Homo sapiens: one gene and its partners. The protein of the gene in region 1 interacts with the protein of each later gene in a pairwise test. Each region holds a gene or a part of one and is shown on either strand. Other genes may lie near its edges.

What was found. Proteins that work in one complex are often made in the same cells at the same time.
Region 2: the proteins of NDRG1 (region 1) and MSRB2 interact in binary tests that used the Homo sapiens proteins (3 or more experiments, as listed by UniProt).
Region 3: the proteins of NDRG1 (region 1) and TTC33 interact in binary tests that used the Homo sapiens proteins (3 or more experiments, as listed by UniProt).

The regions. Positions count from the first base shown.
Region 1 is NC_000008.11:133,238,213-133,245,348, reverse strand, and holds part of NDRG1 (protein NDRG1), read left to right. Parts: intron 1-958; coding exon 959-994; intron 995-3,274; coding exon 3,275-3,326; intron 3,327-6,229; coding exon 6,230-6,471; 3' UTR 6,472-7,136. UniProt on the Homo sapiens protein: Stress-responsive protein involved in hormone responses, cell growth, and differentiation. Acts as a tumor suppressor in many cell types. Necessary but not sufficient for p53/TP53-mediated caspase activation and apoptosis.
Region 2 is NC_000010.11:23,090,966-23,098,578, forward strand, and holds the start of MSRB2 (methionine-R-sulfoxide reductase B2, mitochondrial precursor), read left to right. Parts: upstream 1-4,613; 5' UTR 4,614-4,643; coding exon 4,644-4,761; intron 4,762-7,613. UniProt on the Homo sapiens protein: Methionine-sulfoxide reductase that specifically reduces methionine (R)-sulfoxide back to methionine.
Region 3 is NC_000005.10:40,711,076-40,717,961, forward strand, and holds the end of TTC33 (tetratricopeptide repeat protein 33), read right to left. Parts: intron 5,424-6,886; coding exon 5,070-5,423; 3' UTR 501-5,069; downstream 1-500.

The sequences.
Region 1 (7,136 bases):
TCAGTATGTCTATTTTGGGGACACAATTCAACCACAACCTACAGCAAAGGGTAGGTGGCCTGACTGAGGTGGGGTGGCCGATTTGATGGTAGATCCAGAAACAGAACTCACTTAGGCCTGATTCTGGAGACTTCCACAGCGTCAGTCTAATGTGCTGAGTGCCCCGCCTGGAGGAAAAATTCGGGCATCCTGCTCCCTGCGTGCTGGTTGAGCTGAGGGCTGCCCCAGGTCAGTGTCGCTTTGTGGCTAGTGTTGGGGGTCCAGACTTGAGGCGCCCTGGGCTGTAGGATGCCCACAGCCTCACCACTCCCATGAACTCCTCCAGCCCCGTTTCACCCCAGGCCACCCTCCCCGCAGCCTCCCCCTGCTCCCTTGCCGTCAGCGCTGCCCATTTCCAGGCTGGCTGCACAGTCTCACAGCCTGCAATGGCCTCTTGCGGTTCGGTGATTTCACAGGGACTTTGAACGTCCACCATTTAGGAAGGGTACTGGTCAGCTGAATCCGGCCTGAAGACCCAAATTCAACCACTTCCTTTTGAGGGAAACTTTCAAGGGAATATATGAAGAGGGTCTTGTTTATCAAACCCTTTCGGGTCAGAGAGATCCTGGCCTGGAACCTTGCGAGTCCCTCAAGCTCTTCCTGGCCCAGTTTCTGCCTGTAAAATGGGACAGCTGTACCTTCCATGGTTCTTGGGGAATGGAGTGAAATTATCTGTAGGGCCTAGCATAGTGCCTGGCACGTAGCAAGCTGCAAGTGATGGTTGCCACGGAGACACCAGCAGCCTTGCCTGGTGGGGCTGGAGTGTTCCCTACCCACGGTCCACCCTGTTCCTCCTTTGTAAGGCAGGACAAGGCAGGGCAGGGCAGCGGGCGGATGGGCATCCTTTCGGAAAAAATTCATAGAGCGCAGAGGGCCTTGGCTGTGGTGTTTGGCACTAACGAGCTTCCCTCTCTCCTAGATGGCGGACTGTGGCGGCCTCCCGCAGATCTCCCAGGTGAGTGCCATGTTGGCTTTTGCATTATACAGCTGTCGCTTCCCCCTGGGTGGAGTGCATGTGCCTCTGTGACACCTGTTCCCTCATTACCTTGCTGTGACATCGGATGACAGTTTGTGGACTGTTGGGAAAAGGTGCTATATAGGAGGACTCTGATTCCCTAGGAACCAACCCCTGTGGAGTAGGTGATACTGCGGTTCACAGAGGTTGGGGGATTTGCCAAGTAGACACACCTTGGTCATCATGGGTCAGAATCTGGGTATGTCTGCCCCAAAGACCACGGGCTTCTGCTGGAGTGAAGGGCCGCAAGGAGCTCCAGCCCAGAGCAGAGGGACATGGAGGAGATTAAGCCAAATTGTGTGTGTGTGCATGCATGTTTCTGTGTGTGCATGTGTACACGTCTGTGTGTGTGCATGTGTACACATGTCTGTGTGCATGTGTAAATGTGTGTGCACATGTACAAATAAACACATTGATCAACGTAATGTGTTTGCTACGTAACTGATCCCTTCAATTTCCCCTCCTATAAAGAATCTCACCAACCTAACAAGTAAACTTTTAATTTGTTGTCTTATAATTTTATATCCTGACAGTTTTGTGTTCCATCTTAAAATGAAATAGAGTTTTTTGTCATCTTTTTTATCCAAAACCTGCCCTGCCTCCTTTCTTCCTCCTTTTTTTCTTTCTCTACTTAAAATGAGAACAGATGTAACCCTGGTCATAATTAAAAGAATTTTCAGAGCTTCAGAGGAGTGCAACGAGCACAGGCTTCGAGGACACCAGCACAGGGGGGAGCAATTCCTGTGTGACACTGTCGTCCTCATGCCGTTGCAGGTTGGGTGTATGTTTACACAGGGTTTTCCCATCCTTGATTAAATTAGGTCCTTGCAATAGTCCTCAGAGGTGGGAAGAGCAAGCATTTTATCCCAGTGTCACAGAAGAGGAAACTGAGGCCAAAAGTTGAGAGAGATTGCCCATGATTACTGGAGCTAAAATTGGGCCCAAGTGTTCTCATTCCCAAGCGTGTATTCTTGGTTCTCTCCACCATCTCGAACACAGGCGTCCCTGTTCCCTGCAGCCCTGACCTGCTTCTCTTGTCTCTTTCTTCCACTGTCACACAAATTCCAGAGGGCAATTTGAGCATAGCCGCTCTTTTAAATGTCATTTGGCTCTTTGTGGAATCCTGGCAGGAGTTAGTGGAGAGCAGGGAGGGGGGTCAGCCCAGCCTCTACCAGTGCCCTCTCACTGCCTCAGGAGAATAGGACCCAGGGCACTGGATAGAACAGTTGGGATTAACTGAAGAACAGATACGCCTTGCACGTATGCCCTTGATATTTGAGCATTCACCTCCAAGTTTACATTAAATGAACTGAGAGAACTGGTAGAACTGGATGTGGTCTCAGCATTCCATACGCATTTCACTTAAAGTAGCCCAGTTAGTTGTTAATTAATTGGTTTGTTTACCCATCCAACGAACCATCCAACCATCATCCATTCATTCTTCTTCATATCCTTTCTTCCTTTTATTTGTCCTTCTTTTGTTCATATTTCTCTTTTTTTCTTCCTTTTGTCCATCAATTCTTTTTTTAATCCATCTTTCCTTCCTTCCTTCCTTCTCTTCCTTTCTTTCTTTTTTCCTTCCTTCTTTCCATCCATCCTTTTCTTTCCACCCATCCATCTATCCATCATCCCTTCTTTCAGCCAGCCTGCTATTGAGGCTGACAGTGATTTGCCTCAAGAACAAGTGTTTTAGGTTTGGAGAGCCCTGGGTTAATGTACAGGACCCACCACTTACTTGTTGTGGGACCCTGAGTGGATTTACCTGTCCAAATCTGTTCAGCTATGAAATGTATCTAAGGTAGCACTGACCTCGTGAGGGGTTGTCAGGAGTAAATGAATGAACGCAGCAAAGCCCCTTGCATTGGGAGTGGCTCATGATGCCGATGCAGTTATGTTCCACTTGCTGGGTTAGACATGTCCCTTTGTGGATGGTAATCTCCTCAGAAACACACAGAAATAGCTGTGATACTCTGCCCTGTATTACAGGTGAGGAAACTGGCTCAGACAGGTCATGTAACTTGTCCAAGTTCCACAGCTGTGGGGTGAATTTCCCATCATTGTCCCATACTCTTACTTTTGTGTTTTGTCCTGTCAACACGTGATGGCTTTTGTCTTGAGCCAAACTCTCAAATGAAGGTGACCACAGGCACAGCCCCCCATGGCCTCGGGTGATCTGGCTCCCCAGCAACTGACTGCATTTTCTCTCCTTGTCTCTCGCAGCCGGCCAAGCTCGCTGAGGCCTTCAAGTACTTCGTGCAGGGCATGGGATACAGTGAGTATGGCATTCCCCGTGTGCAGTGGGTCGGGGCATGTGTCGGAATTGGAAGTGCTCTGTCCTGAGCCAGGTTTGGATGAGCAATTCTGTGTCCCCCTGGCCAGCTTCAGCTTTCTGGGAGGAAACAGTTAGGTGTGTGGAGGGCATGTGGCAGCCTGGAGGATCTAGCCTCTCATTTATCAGTGAGGCTCATTTTTCCTCCTTTGTTGAATAGAAGTTGTTTCACACCAGGGATTTTGGGGGGTTTAGATGAGGACTGTCCCTTTAAGCACCAAGACAATGACCAACAGTGAAACAATAACATTTTTAAAAATTTTGATCACAAGTTTTAAGAGACCACTAGCTACAGTGATGATGAAGATGGTGTCGATGATGATGAAAGATTACTAACACATTATTTTATCTCACTGAACCATCACAGTACTCCTTTGACATATTCTTAGCCCATCTTATCAGTGATGAAGCTGAGGCTTCGGGGTTGTAAGCAGGGAGCAGAGGGCGGATCTGTGGAAATTCTTTGAAGACTGTGAAGCTCTGTGGAAGTGGCTAACAAAGTTGCTTACATTCAAGGTGGAGCATGCCATAGTCAAGTCATGAGCTTTGGGAAGTGGAGGATACATTGGAAGCATCATTCAGGAACTCACTCGTTCTTATTTTGCAGTTATAGTTTGTTAGACACATACAGCCTTTTTTCCAGAAGTGCTGTCCCAGGACTAGGACAGACCCTGGCGAGTTGTAACTCGGCTGAACAGCAGCCACACTCAGTGCTGTGGGCCTGTCAGCCATGGTCCGGCCCTGACATGACTAGTGGCTCTTCTGACCCTACTGCTTGGAACTATAATTCGTGTGTCCTCCCTTACTAGGAAGTTATTGAACTTCTGATCCCTTTTATCATTTCCTTAAACTGTTTGCCCATGTATAGTAAGAGTATGCTTGGTAAGCTGACTGCAGTCCTAGCATTGGCCTTAGCCATGATTAGCTCTAGCAAGGCGAGGCTGGCAGGTTTGATTTCCATGCCTCAGGCTCAGGCAGGATCCACATCCCCAGGTGCCCTCTTCCAACAGAAGCTATCTGCTAGTGGGGCTCCTGCCTTTCTAGCCTGCTTTCCCCGACGGAAGTTGCAGGCAAAGGTTGTCATTGGAGACAGCCATGGAGACAGCCGCGGGGCAGTCCTGCTTTACCCTGCACGGTGTGAATTGTGGCTCCCATTTGTCTTGGTCCCGCCAGGGTTTGGATTTCTGCTTTGAGAGTGTGTTCTGGAGAGAAAGGAAGTGAATGCTAGACCTCATCTTTCTCCCCAAATCGGCTTCTATTACCAGAAAGCTGAAGCCTCCTGCAGGTCTTGGGGGGAAAATAACAGGAAGAGCTATGGTCTCAAAGGCATCAGCCAAAGAGAAGGAAAGGAACCGGTCACTGGCCTTCTGCACACCACGGGGTGCTGGCTTGATGAACCCTTTGCACACCTGGCATCAGTGCTCACTGTACGCTTCTCATCCTGCTCAGTAGACATCCCAGATTTGTGGGTGAGAAGTAGGGGCTCAGAGAAATATGTGAGCTGCGGATGTGGCATTGACCCCAATTCTTTCTGAATTCAAAACTAGCTCTTTAAGACAATTCAGCAAGGATTAATTCTGTTTGGGAGTGCCTGACATCAAAAGCCCCTCCCTGTGCCTATCAAGGAGATAACATAAGCCCTGCATGCTTGGTGTGGATCAACTGCCCCTGTTTCTGATGTCTGACTCAGTGTGGCCTCCTAGCCATGATGCTTCAGTTGGGTGGAGTACTAGTTTCCTAAAGCTGCCGTAACAAATCTCCACAAACTGGGTGGCTGAAAACAATAGAAATCCATTCTCTCAAAGTTCAGGAGGCCTAAAGTCCAAAATCAAGGTGTGGGCAGGGCCTTGCTCCCTCCAACGCTGCTGTGGAAGAACCTTCCATGCCTCTTCCTGGCTTCTGGTGGCCCCAGCAATCCTTGGCTTTATGTGGCTTGTGGCTGCATCACTCCAATCTCAGCCTCTGTCTTTGCGTGGACTTCTCCCCTGCATATCCCTGTGTGCTGTTTCTATAAGGACATCACAGTCATTGGGTTTAGGGTTCCCTCTCAACCCAGGATGATTTCATCTCAAGATCCTTAACTAATTACATATGCAAAGACCCTATTTCCAAATAAGGTTCCCTTCTGAAGTTTCAGGTAGGTGTGAATCTTCCGGGACACTGTCCCACCCGGTACAGGTGGGCAGGATTGTTCCTCCTCATTCCACCCCATCAGCACGTGCTACCCCATCAGCATGTGCCACTTGCACGTGCCATGTGCAAGAGCATTTGAGGTCTCAGAGAAGATCCCAAAGAATAGACAGCGCCCTTGTTAGCACCTGGGCTGACAGGCTTCTTTGGGAGAGATGACAACGAATAGCCATGCCGGGAACTTGCCGTGTGGCCCCTCTCCCTTTCCCCACCTGTGATGTGCAGGGCCACTGACCCCAGGTGTCCTCCCTGCTCCAGTGATCATGGACAGCATGGGGTCATGGGCGTACACACAGGTGCTGATACCAGGGGTCAGTATTTAACATACTTGCTTTACAGATGGGAACAGGGAGGCTCAGGGGGACACTCTCAAAATTACACAGCTTTTAACAGGTGGCAGAATTGGGGTTCAGACCCAGATCTGGGTTCAAGTCACTCATGGTGTGATTGCGGCAGTTCCTTCCCGCATCTGGGCCTTGCCATCTCTCTCTCCGAGTGGACATGGAGAGGACGGGGGCCCAGCAGCTGGATGGCTGCAGGGATCAAGTCTTCTCTGGGGCTGGCACGTAGAAGAGCATGTGGCTGGTGGACGGGCATGCCTGGCTCCTCACCTGGCAGTCTCCTGCCCTCTAACCGGCTGTCTCTTGTTCCCCTAGTGCCCTCGGCTAGCATGACCCGCCTGATGCGGTCCCGCACAGCCTCTGGTTCCAGCGTCACTTCTCTGGATGGCACCCGCAGCCGCTCCCACACCAGCGAGGGCACCCGAAGCCGCTCCCACACCAGCGAGGGCACCCGCAGCCGCTCGCACACCAGCGAGGGGGCCCACCTGGACATCACCCCCAACTCGGGTGCTGCTGGGAACAGCGCCGGGCCCAAGTCCATGGAGGTCTCCTGCTAGGCGGCCTGCCCAGCTGCCGCCCCCGGACTCTGATCTCTGTAGTGGCCCCCTCCTCCCCGGCCCCTTTTCGCCCCCTGCCTGCCATACTGCGCCTAACTCGGTATTAATCCAAAGCTTATTTTGTAAGAGTGAGCTCTGGTGGAGACAAATGAGGTCTATTACGTGGGTGCCCTCTCCAAAGGCGGGGTGGCGGTGGACCAAAGGAAGGAAGCAAGCATCTCCGCATCGCATCCTCTTCCATTAACCAGTGGCCGGTTGCCACTCTCCTCCCCTCCCTCAGAGACACCAAACTGCCAAAAACAAGACGCGTAGCAGCACACACTTCACAAAGCCAAGCCTAGGCCGCCCTGAGCATCCTGGTTCAAACGGGTGCCTGGTCAGAAGGCCAGCCGCCCACTTCCCGTTTCCTCTTTAACTGAGGAGAAGCTGATCCAGTTTCCGGAAACAAAATCCTTTTCTCATTTGGGGAGGGGGGTAATAGTGACATGCAGGCACCTCTTTTAAACAGGCAAAACAGGAAGGGGGAAAAGGTGGGATTCATGTCGAGGCTAGAGGCATTTGGAACAACAAATCTACGTAGTTAACTTGAAGAAACCGATTTTTAAAGTTGGTGCATCTAGAAAGCTTTGAATGCAGAAGCAAACAAGCTTGATTTTTCTAGCATC
Region 2 (7,613 bases), on another chromosome or scaffold:
AACCATTTATTTAAGTCTTCATTCACTGCCTTTAGAGCTTTAAAACTATATTTTATATATATTAGATGTTCCAGTTGGTTAGTTTCTAGGAATTCTCTAGATTGAGGTAAAACAAAAATGAGTATCGACATTGAACTTTGGGCAGATGGAAGCAGATAAAGTATTTTCAGTGCAGATTAATTGTGTAAAGCTTATTCCAGTCCCTCATTCTTTCCCAAATGGTTTTTGGTAGGGAAAAGCAAATTGGCTTTTGCACTTATCTCCCATTTTTTGGTCATTCTATCCTATCTTTTAGGGATTTTATTATCAAATTTATAGTTTGCAGAGAAGTGTGTTGGATATACAAAGAGTCAAAGTTATAGAATTTTGCCTTTCCTGAAGATTCTCACAATCAAATTCAGGACATCAGATATACACTGTGTCAACTTCATGAAACAGAAAATCCCAGTAACAGTGATTTAAACAAAATATAGATTTATTGGTCTCTCATGTAATTGGAAATCTGAAGGCAGGCAATCCAAGACTAGCATATTGACTCCACACTGTCTTCAGAATCCTGGGCTCCTTCATGTCTTCTACTTCTTTAAAATCAAGATGTGGGTCTCATCTTCATGTATACCAGAAGATTGCCAGTGCTCCAGCCATCATGACTAATTTCCAAGCAGAAACAAAAGACAGAGCAAAAGTCCAGTGCTGAGCCAGCTCCTCTTTAACTAGTTTTCCTGGTAGCTCCCAGTGATGTCTGCTCCTATCATTGCCCATAACAGCATCATATGATTGCCACCAACTACAAGGGAGCTGACAGATGTAACATTTTAGCTAGGCATATTGCTACTCTTAATAAAATCAAAGATCTGTTTGTAAGTAGAGAGAGTGGATATCGGCCAGGCAAATGATAGTCTCTACCACTCAGTGTACAAAGTAAAAGGGAAAACATAAAGTAGAGTTTTGTTCAGGCTAAGACCATGTGTCCAAGAATGTGAGGTTAATGCATGGCCTTGATGGTTAAGTTGGATTCAGATAAATGGTGGTGAGAAGAGGGGACATTTTAAGACCAGTAAGGGCTTGATCACAGATGAGGTAAAGGTCCTCCTAGCAGGTGTAAAGGAGAATGGTGGTAGGGAGGGAGGGACTTCCTCTGTGCTTAGAATGTCTTTCTGGGAGTGTGAGGATATGTAGAAATGCAAGGATAGATTGGTTATCAGCTCTGTTTACCAATTACCGTTGTCCTCATTAAATCTTCAATAACAACTAACGTTTATTAAAACCAAGTATGTACCAAAGGGTTTGCTAGGTGTTTTAACGTATGTTGTATCTAATCCTTACAATAACCCCATTTTGGGGATAAGAAAACTGATCTGTCACAGGTTGAATACTTGATCAAGCTCATGCGTCTTTTAAATTTAAGATATTCTGACTTGAATGTGTTTTACACCAGACTCCATGATTTTTTTCCCACAATGTCACAATGTTAAGTTAATTTATTAACTTTGCTTGGGATTGGGGGTGAAGGTGGGTGAGTTAAACCGGTATTCCTTGATATTTTCTAAATTCTAAACTTTAGGGGAACTTTACAAACTCTTCAACTAACTAGCAGTGTGATCATAGACAAGGTACTTATCCTCTCTGGATTTGAATTTGTTTACTTATTACTCAGATACAAAACCAGACAGATACTATAAGAGAGGAAGCTTTCAGTCCAACATCCTTCATCAACACAGACACAAAAATTCTAAAAAAATGTAATCCATGATACATAGAACATAATCCAACAATACATGAAACAAATAATAAAACTGACAAAGCAGGCTTTATTGAAGAAATACTAAGTTGGTTTAACGTTTGAAAATCAAGTAACAAACTACAAAAAGAAAATAGGAAAAAGGTATGATTATATCAGTAGCTGCAGAAAAGCATTTGACAAAAATCCAACATCCCTTCCTGATAAAAACTCTCAGTAGACTACAAATAGAAATTTCCTTAATCTGATAGAAAATTTATGAAAAACTTATAGCTAATATCATACTTAATGGTAAAAGGCTGAATACTTTTCCTCTAAGATCAGGAACAAGACAAGGATGTTCACTCTCAACATTTCTATTCAACACTGCGCAGGCTCTAACCAGTGCAATAAGGCAAGAAAAAGAAATCAAAGACATCTGTATTAAAAAGAAAGAGTAAAACTCTTTCTACACAGATGACATGATTTTTCTATGTAGAAAATCTGATAAAATCCATAAAATGTTACTAGAACTAAGAAATGAGTTTAGAAAGATTACAGAATACAAGATCAATATACAAAATCTACATACTAGCAATCAGAAATTGAAATTGATAAAACAATACCACAGCATCAAAAATATGAAATGCTTTAGGATGAATCTATCAAAAGATGTGCAAAACCTATACAGTGAAAACTACAAAACACTACTAGTAGGTGTTAAGGAAGACCTAAATAAATAGATAGGCATATCTTTATTCATGGGTCAAAAGATTCAATATTGTTATGATATTAATTTCCCCCAAACTTATGGATAGAATCAATGCAATCCCAATCAAAACTTAAGTAAGATCATGTGTAGAAATTGACAGACTGAATCTAAAATTTATGTTGAAATACAAAAGACCTAAAATAGCCCAAACAACCTTAAAAAAGAACAGAGGTACAGTACCAATGCTAGCTGGTTGCAAGTCCAGTCATCAGGATATTGTAATATTGATGTAAAAATAGACAAATTAATTAATGGGACAAAATAGGAAGTCCAGAAATAGACACAACACATTGATAGGAAACTGATTTTTGACAGATTCAAAAACAGTTCAGTGGAGAAAGAGTAGTCTTTTAAAAATTGGTGCTAGGAGCCAGGCCTGGTGGCTCACGCCTGTAATCCCAGCACTTTGGGAGGCCGAGGCAGGCAGATTACCTGAGATCAGGAGTTCAAGACCAGACTGGCCAACATGGTGAAACCCCGTCTCTACTAAAAATACAAAAATTAGCCAGACGTGGTGGCACACGCCTGTAATCCCAGCTACTCAGGAGGCTGAGGCAGAAGAATTGCTTGAGCCTGGAAGATGGAAGTTGCAGTGAGCCAAGATCGTGCCACTGCACTCCAGCCTGGCCGACAGAGACTCTGTCTCAATCAATCAATCAATCAATCAATAAAAATGGTGCTGGAACAACTGGATATAGATATGCAAAAAACAAAACAGATAAACAAAACAAAACAAAAATTTTGGCCATATATAAAAATTCTAAATCGGTCAGAGACCTAAATGTAAAACCTAGAACTATAAAAATTTTAGAACAAAACATAGGAGAGAATCTTTGTGATCTTGGATTAGGCAAAGATTTCTTAAATATGATACCAAAAAAAGAACAATCCATTAACAAATTGATAAATTGGGCTTCATCAAAATTAAAAACTGCTCTTCCCAAGACAATATTAGGAGACAGAAAAGACAAACAAGAGACTGGGAAAAAAAATCTTTGTAAAGCATATGTTTGATAAAAGATTTGCATCCAAAATATATAAAGTGTTCTAAGCTCAATAATGAAACAACTCAACATTAAATGGGCAAAAGATCTGAACGGACACTTCACCAAGGAAAATACACTCGCTGCAAATACGCACATGAAAAGATGCTTAACATCATTAACGATTAGAGAATGCATAATAAAGCCACAATGAGCTACCACTACACAGAACCGGAACATCTACAGTTAAAATCTCTGGACTTTCAAGTGTTGGCAAGGATGAAGAACAACTGGAACTCGCATAGACTGCTAGTGGGAAGGTAAAGAAAAAAACCACTTGGGAAAACAGTATAGTAGTTTCTTAAATGGTTACACCTACCTTACGACCTGGGCATTCCACTTCCAGGTATTTACCCCAGAGAGGAAAAACCGTATATGTCTGTACAAAGATTTGCACAGGGATGTTCCTAGCAGCTGTAGTTCTAATCAGGAAAAATTGAAAGCAGGCTAAATCAAGTGCTGACTAAACACACGGTGGTATATCCATAAATGGAATACTGCTCAGGAAGCAATGAATGATTGTTCCATGCAAAAACACGCAGGCATGTCAAAGTAACTATGTTGAGTGAAAGAAGCCAGACAAAATCAAGTACATATGGGATGATTCCATTTATGGACGACTCTAGAAAATGCAAACTAAAACAGATCAGTGTTTGGGCTGCGGATGAGTGGAGTTGGGATAGGTGGAGGGGGGCAGGGCGAGGGAGGAGCAGGAGTGGGAGGAGCTGGGAGATGCAGAGATGGGTTGGGGAGGGTCTCATGGAAGGGAAGGGAGAGAGGAAGGGGGAGAGGAAGGGGGAGGAAAGGCAAGGGGAAAAGGAGAGGAAGAGGGAGGGGGAGAGAGAGGCAGAGTGGGAGGAAAGAGGGGCGGGGACCTGGGAGGGCCCAGGGCACATAGTGGGAGGAGCAGGTGGGAAGGAGGGAAGGAGGGAGGGGCAGGGGAGGGAGAAGAGGGGGAGGGAGACGAGGGGACTGGCGGTGTGGGCGGAGCGTGGGGAGGGAGGCCGACTAGCGCAGGCGGACGGGAGAGAATGGGGGAGGGGTGGGATGGGAGCAGGGGCAGAGACGGGCAGAGGGCAGAGGGCGGAGCGGCGCCGGAGCGGGCGTCATGGCGCGGCTCCTCTGGTTGCTCCGGGGCCTGACCCTCGGAACTGCGCCTCGGCGGGCGGTGCGGGGCCAAGCGGGCGGCGGCGGGCCCGGCACCGGGCCGGGACTGGGGGAGGCAGGTAGGACGCGGGTCCCGCAGGCCCCGCCGCCGCCTACGGCTTTCGGCTTCATTTCACCGGCTGCACCCGGGAGCCTAGGGCCGGTCCAGGCCGGGCGCTGCCCTCCTACTAAGCCCTCCTCGGCGCGCCCCTCCCCCCCCCCAGCCCGAGGATCTGGGACAGTGGATTGTAAACTTGGTGGCGGCAGGGTGGGGACTGACCCCTGTGAGAATCCGAGGAAATGAACAAATGATCCCCCTAAATGTGCGCATAATTTTTTTTTTCTTGGCTCGGGGAGTGGGGGCATAAGTGGGGCTCGGGGGCCTCTGACCCCTATCGGGGACTCCAGGCGAAGGCCCGGGGCCTGGGCTGTAGCAGCCCGGCCCGCGCGCCCCTGCGAAGGCCCCTAGTATTTTGCATTGCAGCCCTCTTCGTAGTTCCGCGGGCTTCCTTCCAGCATCTGAGAAGCAGGCAGTTCAGACTTGGGGTTCCTGTGAGTGTTTCCTGCCCTGCTGACTTCCCATAAATGTGTCTAAGAGCCAGGGAGACTGGGTTGATCATTTGTTCCTTCTTTAAGGTGACAGCCATTGTTAATGACTGAGACAGAGACCAGGGCGAGCCTGTGTGTGTGTGTCTCTCTCTCTCTCTGTGTGTGTGTGTGTGTGTGTTTCTGCTAAATACTTTTGGATCCTCTCTTGGATCTGGGTACCTGCACATTTCACCAAGCAGGAAGGAGTCACCTCGGGAGACCTGTGCCAGCTACCCCTGTATTTCAGTTCTATTTCAGGGTAACTTAGTGCCCCAGGGGATTGGCTTCCTGGGCGGTTGCCAGACTGACCCACTCTGAATCCAATTTTATATGTGTTCATTGAAGACATTCAGAGATACCCAACTGATGAAAATGTACCAACTCATTCTGAGCTCTTTTTAGCCCCTGAAGTTTTCGAAATGCAATATTGAAAGAATACGTAACTAAATAAAAGCGTTGGCGTTGTGGAATGTTAGCTCATCCAACTTGACTTCCAGCTATGGCCTTTCTAATCACTGGTGTCTCTAGTCAGTCTGATGACATTTGCTGTGAGCCTACTGTGTGCCAAGCATTGTATTGCTGAGAACCACAGGTGATAGAAACAGGTCACAGTTACCGACGAGCTCTCTATAACCCCTTGAAAAAGGATGGTGGTTTTAGCGGTAACTACTTCATGGCTGTAATTGCTGCTGTCAGAAGCAGCCTAATGAATTGCCCTGGGATCTGAAGTTCTCCAGCAACAATAAAATTTGGCCAGCCACCAGTAGGTAACAGGAGCTGTGTACCTTATCAGACACCCCTCCTGGGAATCTATTCGAAGGAAATAGTTCAAAAGAAGAACAAAGAGATATATGCAAAGATGCTTTAAGCACTAGTCTCTTACAAAATGGAAACTGGCTGTAACCCAAATCAGTTAAGAAATACTTACGTAAATCATGAAAATTCAATCCAACAAACTGTTAGGCAGCCATTAAAAATGATAAACGGAGTATTTCTGTGGTGAAGGGCTTGGGTATGAATAGATGCAGATTTTGAGTCTTGGCTCTCGGTTACTTCCTGGCTCTGTGTCTGAGCTCAGGCTGCTATTGCAAAACACCGTGGACTGGGTGGCTTCAACAACATTTTCTCACAGTTCTGGAGGCTGGGAAGTCCAAGATCAAGGTGGGAACAGATTTGGTTCCTGATGCAGACCTGCTTCCTGGCTTGCAGTTGACTGCCTTCTCACTCTGCCTTCAGGTGACTGTCTCAGGAAGGACCACTAATCCCTCAAGAGAGCCTCACCTTTATGATCTAATCTAAAACTAATAACCTCCCAAGCCCCACCTCCACATTCCATCTCATTGGGAGTTAGGGCTTTAGCATATGGGAGTGGGGAGAGGAGCAGGGAGAACATATAATATTCAGTTTGTAACAATGTCTTTGGACATGTTTCTTGAATTTGGAAAGTTTAAACTTCAGATTTTTTTTCCTTCTGTCAAATAAGGATAATGATAATGGTAGGGTTGTTGTAAAGAATAACTTTTTAATTAAATATTTTGTTACAATGCTTGACACTTAGGCACACAATAAATGTTAGTTATGATTACATAAATAAGTGGAAAGGACAAAAATGTAGCTACATTTAACTTACATCATGGGCTTCGGGAGTGTTGAGAGAGAGGGAGACATTGGGAGGGGGGAAATGAGAAGATATTGAAATGACAGTATTTTTTTCCAGTGCTGCAATTTCTCATATGCTTAGAGTGATTTTTTTTAATCCAGATTGACAAAGAGCAAACTGAAAAAGGAAAGTAAGAAATATTCTGGAGCAAAAAATCTGTTGCTTCAGGAAAATATTCTTTCTAGAGATGACTATGCTAGGAAACTGTCCTGGGCATAGGGTTAAAATAGTCCAGGCACTGGTGGGAGAGACTAGTTCTGCAGATCAGAATGGGCTGGGGATTCTTTTAATACCAGTTTCTAAAGAGTTCCATTAGATTCAACACATTATTTATCAAAATGGAGTGGGCTTATGTGTGACAATTGGCAGTATAGCAACTGTGGCCAGGAAGGTTAGCAAAACCCGAAGGAGGCACCCAGTAGGTGACCATAGGACCAAGAGTGGATTTCCTTAGGGATGAAAAAATCGAGGCCCACCCCGTAGAACTTCTGACCAACAAAATATATGGCCTGTGCAAATCACAGCACACAGAGAGAAGGGAACTCCAAGGAATTTGAGTTTATTAAGGCATAATTCAAAGTAAAGCTGTGTAGTTATCTCATGCAATAGCAGCAACCGATAAATGTTTTCATAGTGAAGATAGCAAGAGAATGTAGAGGGAATCTGGAAAATGTGTAGCCCCCA
Region 3 (6,886 bases), on another chromosome or scaffold:
TAAAAATATGTATATATATATATAGAAAACAAACAAGCAAGCTGCAGATAGGAAGATAATATACACAATACTTACAGCTCATGAAGGACTTCTATCCAGTAGAAAGGAAAACTCTTACAACTCAATAAGAAGATGACTTAAATCAAAAATGGGCAAAATATTTGAAAAGTTACTTTCCAAAAAAGAGAAATGTCAGATAAGCCTATGAAAAGATGCTCAACATTATTAGGGAAATGCATATTAAAACCACAATGAAATACTACTACATATCCACTAAAGTGTCTAAAATTTAAAAGACTGACAATATCAATCATTGACAAGGATATGGAGAAACTGAAATTAATTTAATACATTGCTAGCAGAAATCCCAAATGGTACAGATAATTTGGAAAAGTTTGGCAGTTTCCTTTAAAGTTGTGCATAAACTGGTCATAAGACTCAGCAATTCCATCCCTAGGTATTTACATAAGAGAAATGAACACATATGTCCACACATAGAATTGTGATTTATATATATAGCAGCTTTATTCATAATAGATCAAAACTTGAAACAACCTAAATGTCCATCAATAGGTGAACAGCTAAACAAATTGTGGTATATCTATATACTAGAATACTATTCAGCAATAAAAAGGAACTTATTATTGATACACATGATAACATGGATGAATCTCAACATGGATGGGTTTCAAAAGCATCATGTTAAGCAAAAAAAAAGTCAGACACAAAAAGAGTGCATATTATATGGCCTATTTATTTCAAACTCTAGAATTCTGAAGTCAAATCTAACGTATAGCCACAGAAAGCAGAAAAGTAGTTGACTAGGGATGGCTGTTCAGGTGGAGGGGAACCAACTGCAAAAGGGCTTTAGAGAACTTTTTGGGTGATGGACACACACTATATCAGGATGGTAGTGGTGGTGAAGTGGGTGTTTACATTTGTCAAAACTCTCCCAACTATAACGTTAAAATACTTGCATTTTATTATTTCTAAGTTATACTCATTTAAGAAAGTTAATAGAGGTGAACAGAGGATATCCTAATTCATTTCACATTCTTCCCTTCCAATTCAATCTAGAGTCAACAATGTGGTCTGTCACAATTCCAACTCAGCAGACCTTTTAAATATCCTGAACAAATGTTTACCTGTTGCCTTGTAATTAACACTACTCAATTTCAATAGAATTTCCATTATTTAAAAAAAACCTCTAAAATTAGGAAAGAATTCCCACATGTGGTTTTTAATATATCTCATGCTTACTTCGAAATATAATCTGCACTAGTCTTTGTTAAAGTTTGAGGGAGTCATAAAATAATGTCCCTCTCCTCTCCTGACCTCTGAACCACTTGAGACACAGACAGATGGAGATTCAATATTTTAAGTTTACTGCTGAAAAAGGCTAGGTTAGAGGATGTACTTTAAGTTTATGCCAACAATAGCCACCAGATATTGAACTTAGAATTAGACAGACCTGCTTACTAAGGCATGGGCAGTTCTGCACAAGCACAAATCTCCCTTTGCAGAGGCAAAGAACTTTCACTGCAAGGTTCACAATGTAGCTGGCAAGAGACCACAACATCGGTTCTCTGCAGTTATGACAAATCCACAAAAGGGAAAAAAGAGGCTAGCATGCCCAGTTCTATATCTTAAACTCCCTCCTTTCCTGGTGAAGTGAGAGAAAGAGATTAGAATTCCTTGGTAAATGGATAGCCTAAGAAGCACTGTGAGAGGAAGCCATCCTTACCCGCCGCTGCCTTCTGACCAAAGTAGTTCATATATAGTGCACATTAGGGCATGATTCATGTTACAGTAGCTTTAGGGCCACACTTCTTCTTCCGAAGTAACCATATTTAATTGCAAGTGACTAAGGTAAATGACTTTAGGGATAACCTCCTTTATTTCATTTTATTTCTGTTTTATAATTTATATATTTCAATATCTTATTATTGGTAAGAAAAACTTAACTTTCTCAGTCCTAAAATTCTTTATTATCAAATACATCAGTTTAATAATAATCTCTAAGGAAGAAAAAAACACATTTAAGATATCCATTGATTTGAAGATAATTATTATGGAACTATGGTTCTTATGTCAACTCACAACTCATTTAGATATTAATACATGTATCATGAAATCATAGCTCAGAATTGCTGGTCCAGAGTCACTTTAGAATGGCTCTGATTCAAGGAAATTAAAAGAAATGATTGTTAATTTTCTTAGTGCTGGGAAAGGCAGTGAAACAAGCTTTTGAATCATTATGTAATTTTCAAACAACTAAAAGGGCTATACTGTTCAGTTATAATCTTAAAAATTCTAGCTGAGACAGAGCTTTTAAAAAATCTTTATAGTTTTACCATACGGCATCAATTCAAAAGATTGTCATACTGAAACCACTGCCATAAAATTTTGTATGTAGGCCCCAGTTGCAGTAGATCTGGCTCCTGTGAGCTATAACTTGCATGGCTTTTCAATGTTTATGTAGTGTCTGTTAATATATTTAAGATAAATACTCTATAACCAAACAGCCTGTTTTCTAGAGAATGATATATGATTCTTGTGTTATCAGGCATGGTCTGGATGTCTAGACACTCTGACTAATGAGTGTCTATGCCATACAATTCTCAAACAAGAATAATGTAAATTATAGTCAATATAACTTGAACAGTAAACAGTGTTATTTCAGAAAGTATATTAAACATCTATATCATTATCATGAACATCAATTCTCTTCAGATTCATAAAGATTTGTTATTAAAATTAACAAGCTTAGTCTATGTTTGTATATCAGTATTCACATCCTTGTAAAATAATGGGTGCATTTTTCTCTTCACGCATAGAAGAGTATGAGCTAAAATAAGCATTTTGAGGGGCCTGCAGAAATGAGCTGCCTTCCTTCTCCATAACTTACTGTTTCTTTTTCTCCTCTGTCTTATGTCTAAACTATTTTATGTCTTATATCTGGGTAAGAAAGAGACTAACTTGGCCTACCATGCCAGTACAGAGGAAACACTAGGTTCTTATAACAGGGCCTAGTGGCCACATGCATTCCATCCTGAGTCTTGCCTCTTTGGGACTTGAGCTATAGACCCTGTCAAGAAAAATCCCACTATCTCTCCTATAATACTGGAATCAGAGACTTCTTACTTTCAGATAAGGAAAGGATTACAAAAAAAGTTCTCCTTTTTTAAAATCAGAGGAAATTGAGGTTAAATATCTCCAAACTAACTCAAGTTCTTCATAGAAATAGCTAGCATTTACTGAAATAGCTGGCATTACTTCATGTGTGAGGCACCATGCAAGGTACTTTAAATATATTAAGTTCATATAAGAAAGACACTAAGTAGATCAATCTAATTTTTCAAAAGCTAACAACATAAAATAATAGGAAAATCTTCAAAATGCAGAAAAAAACTATTTATTCACAAATTACACAAAAAACAAACATCCATTACTCAAAACAATATACCAAATGTTGAGTACTCACTTCTCTAGATACCTATTTACGTTTTGAGAATGTTCTTTATTAAACAAAATAAAATAATTAACATATTTTTTGGAGCACTCTGAAACTAACCTCTCTAACCAGAGCTAATTTTCTGATGATATAACTTAAGGAAAGAATATTCTTTTCAAGGCAAGTGCTAATTTCTCCAACCCTGAAAAGAGATATGCATTCCAATAAAACAAAAGTTTTAAAAACCATCTTCATAAAAAATGTAGATCATTACTTATAAGCTCCAACAGTAGTAAGATCTTTAACATAAAGTGGGCTACTTTCATCTCTAACAAAGATAAAATTAATACACCAATAGTATCTTCCTGAGTGTCAGAAGTAACAGAACCCAACAGTTCTATATTATTGTACTACAATATATAGTATAAAAATAATAGTTCAGATTAGCAATGACAGTATTGGTTTGTGAATATGACTGTGGACTTTCAATAAAATTTTTTTTAATATAGCCTTTTCATACTCATGAGATTGTACTATAAATCACATTCCAATTTCTATGTATTTTGTGCTTAAGTTATTTATTCATTGGCACTCTAATAACAGCCCTACTTTTTTATTTTTAGAAAGATATAATTAGCTATTTAAAATTGTAATTATTTTTCATTTCACTGAGTAGTTTCAAAAAAAGTTATCTAGAAAAGTAATTCCCAGTCATCAAATGGAAAGACACAAGCAAGAAGTAAGTTGTTTCCAGGGTTTTTAAAGCTTTGTAAAATAAAGAAAAGAAAGTATTGGTTTTGACTGGGATAATATAGCAGTACAATTGTCATTAACCTATCTGTAAAAGCCATTCATTTAAAAATGCATATTTTAAAAATGACTCATTTGTGGTAAGGATTACTTACTGTAACAATTAAAAAATAAAACCATCATTCTCATATTTATCAATACTTTACACTTTTACCAAATACTGAAGGAGACAACTATCATTGTTACAACTTCAAAGTCAAAACAGAAACACAAATCAGAATTAAGAGAAACTTCAGAAAATGTTCAGAATGTACACATTTGTGTGCATTTTCAGCCAAACTTTCAAAGATTCCACATATAACCAAATGACAACTTTGAATCAAAATGAATGTCAAAAATATTCAAGCTTTCTGACAGACTTACTCTAATGAAGCAAGAAAAAGACAGCAAATATTAAGCGCAGTATATTTCTCAGAGGGAGGGAAATCACACACTTCCTTTATCATAAAACAAAAGTTGAGACAGCATTTCAGTAACATTGATCAAATTATTCACTATTCAAGAATACATTTTTCAAGTTTTGTCTTTAAAATGTATTCATTTACATATTCAGATTAAACTAAGTTTATTAATCAAAGACCATTTTACTCAGAATTTTAACCTTGAGAAATATAAATCATAACTTATCAAAGCATATTCCAAACACTATACAATAATCCTGCCATTTTAGTTTTTATATGCCTCATCTGAAAAACATATTTTACAACCAGGCGTTCTCCTATCTATCTCCAGAGTAAATGTCTCTATGTCAAAACTTCAAGAGGCAATCAAAAAGACAGATTCAAATAATCCTATGCATACTGCTTCATCGGGCTTTGATAAAAACAGAGCCATCTGGTGGTGTAGCACCATCCTCCTTTTCAGTTACAGTCTCTATGGCCCCAGAAGCAGACACAATAACCATTGTTTTATTTGCTGAAACTGTCTTCTCTTTCTCAGCAATAGCTGCACAAACAGCAACAATCTCATCACTTTCAAAGTCATAGTCTGGAATTGACTTTGGTGAAAAGTGTGTTACTTCAGCTGGTGCTTCACTTTTTTTAATCCTCTGTGCTACCTTCTGCTGCTCCTGGAGCGTTCTTGCCCAAGAGAGGTCTTCTTTCCATATTTCAGGGTTCATTGGATAGATGTGAAGGGCTACTTGAAAACTTCGAATTGCCTAGAAAATAAGGTCAGAGTTTTTTGTTTTGGTTTTAAAAATTAGTATGTTTAATACAATCCTGTGTGTTTACGTACATATATACTGTACACATACACATCCTAATGCATTATCTTAATGTACTAGAACACAAAAGATGGAAGCTACGGTGTTGCCCTAAACACTGGGGAAAAAAATTATAGAAGTGTGAAAGAAAGTGACTGACAATATGCTTATGGACTAAAAGCCATTAAAATGGGAGTACTCATAATAGGGCTAAAGATAAAGCAAATATATTCTCAGCTTCAGTAGACCAGTAAGTATGTACATTTGGGGATTTCCTGGGCTAACCCACAATCACAAAGGTACCAGGAGTGGATATCTTTGAAGTTAACAGTTTAGATCCTAACAATGTTAACATTTATTGACTGTTTACTACATTCTAGGCACTAAAGATTTACATGTATTTGGCTGGGCACGGTGGCTCATACCTGTAATCCCAGCACTTTGGGAGGCTGAGGTGGGCGGATCACCTGAGGTCAGGAGTTCAAGACCAGCCTGGCCAACACAGTGAAACCCTGTCTCTACTAAAAATACAAAAATTAGCCAGGCATGATGGCGGGTGCCTGTAATCCCAGCTACCCAGGAGGGTGAGGCAGGAGAATCGCTTGAACCCGGGAGACAGAGGTTGCAGTGAGTTGAGATCACGCCATTGCACTCCAGCCTGGGCAAAAAGAGCAAAACTCCATCTCAAAAAAAAAAAAAAAAAAGATTTACATGTATTAACTCATCTATCCTCACAATAATCATATGAAGTAGGTATGGTTATTGTTTTCAGTACTATTTTAGAGAAGCACAGAAAGAGTAGAAACCAAAGGTATCAGCTGGGAATTGGCAGAGCTGGGATGCAAATTCAGGCAGTCTGGCTTCAGAGTCCATTCTCTTATTCATTATATTATACTGCTTAGTCACAAGAACTCCACTACAGTCTGGATAAAGGTCAACCTCAGCACTACTGACATATTTGGCTGAGTAATTCTTTATTTTGGAAGGGCTGTCCTCTATAATGTAGAATATTCAGCAACATCCCTGACCTACACTCACTAAATCCAATACAGCTTCCTTTCCTAGTTGTGATAAACAAAAATGTCTCTAGACATGGCAAATGTTCTCTGGGGGTAAAACTGCCCTCCAAGTGAGAATCATTGGTCTAAATCTATTATATGTTGTTTTCTCTGAGTATACTTAGTCTCTGGATAGAAGATTCTCATGCAAACAGATTAGTTTTAAGATTGCACTTAATCGGCCAGGCACCATGGCTCACGCCTGTAATCCCAGCACTCTGGGAGGTCAAGGCAGGCGGATCACCTGAGGTCAGAAGTTCAAGACCAGCCTGGCCATGGTGAAAACCCGTCTCTACTAAAAATACAAAAAATTAGCCAGGTGTGGTGGTGCACGCCTGTAATCCCAGCTACTCGTGAGGC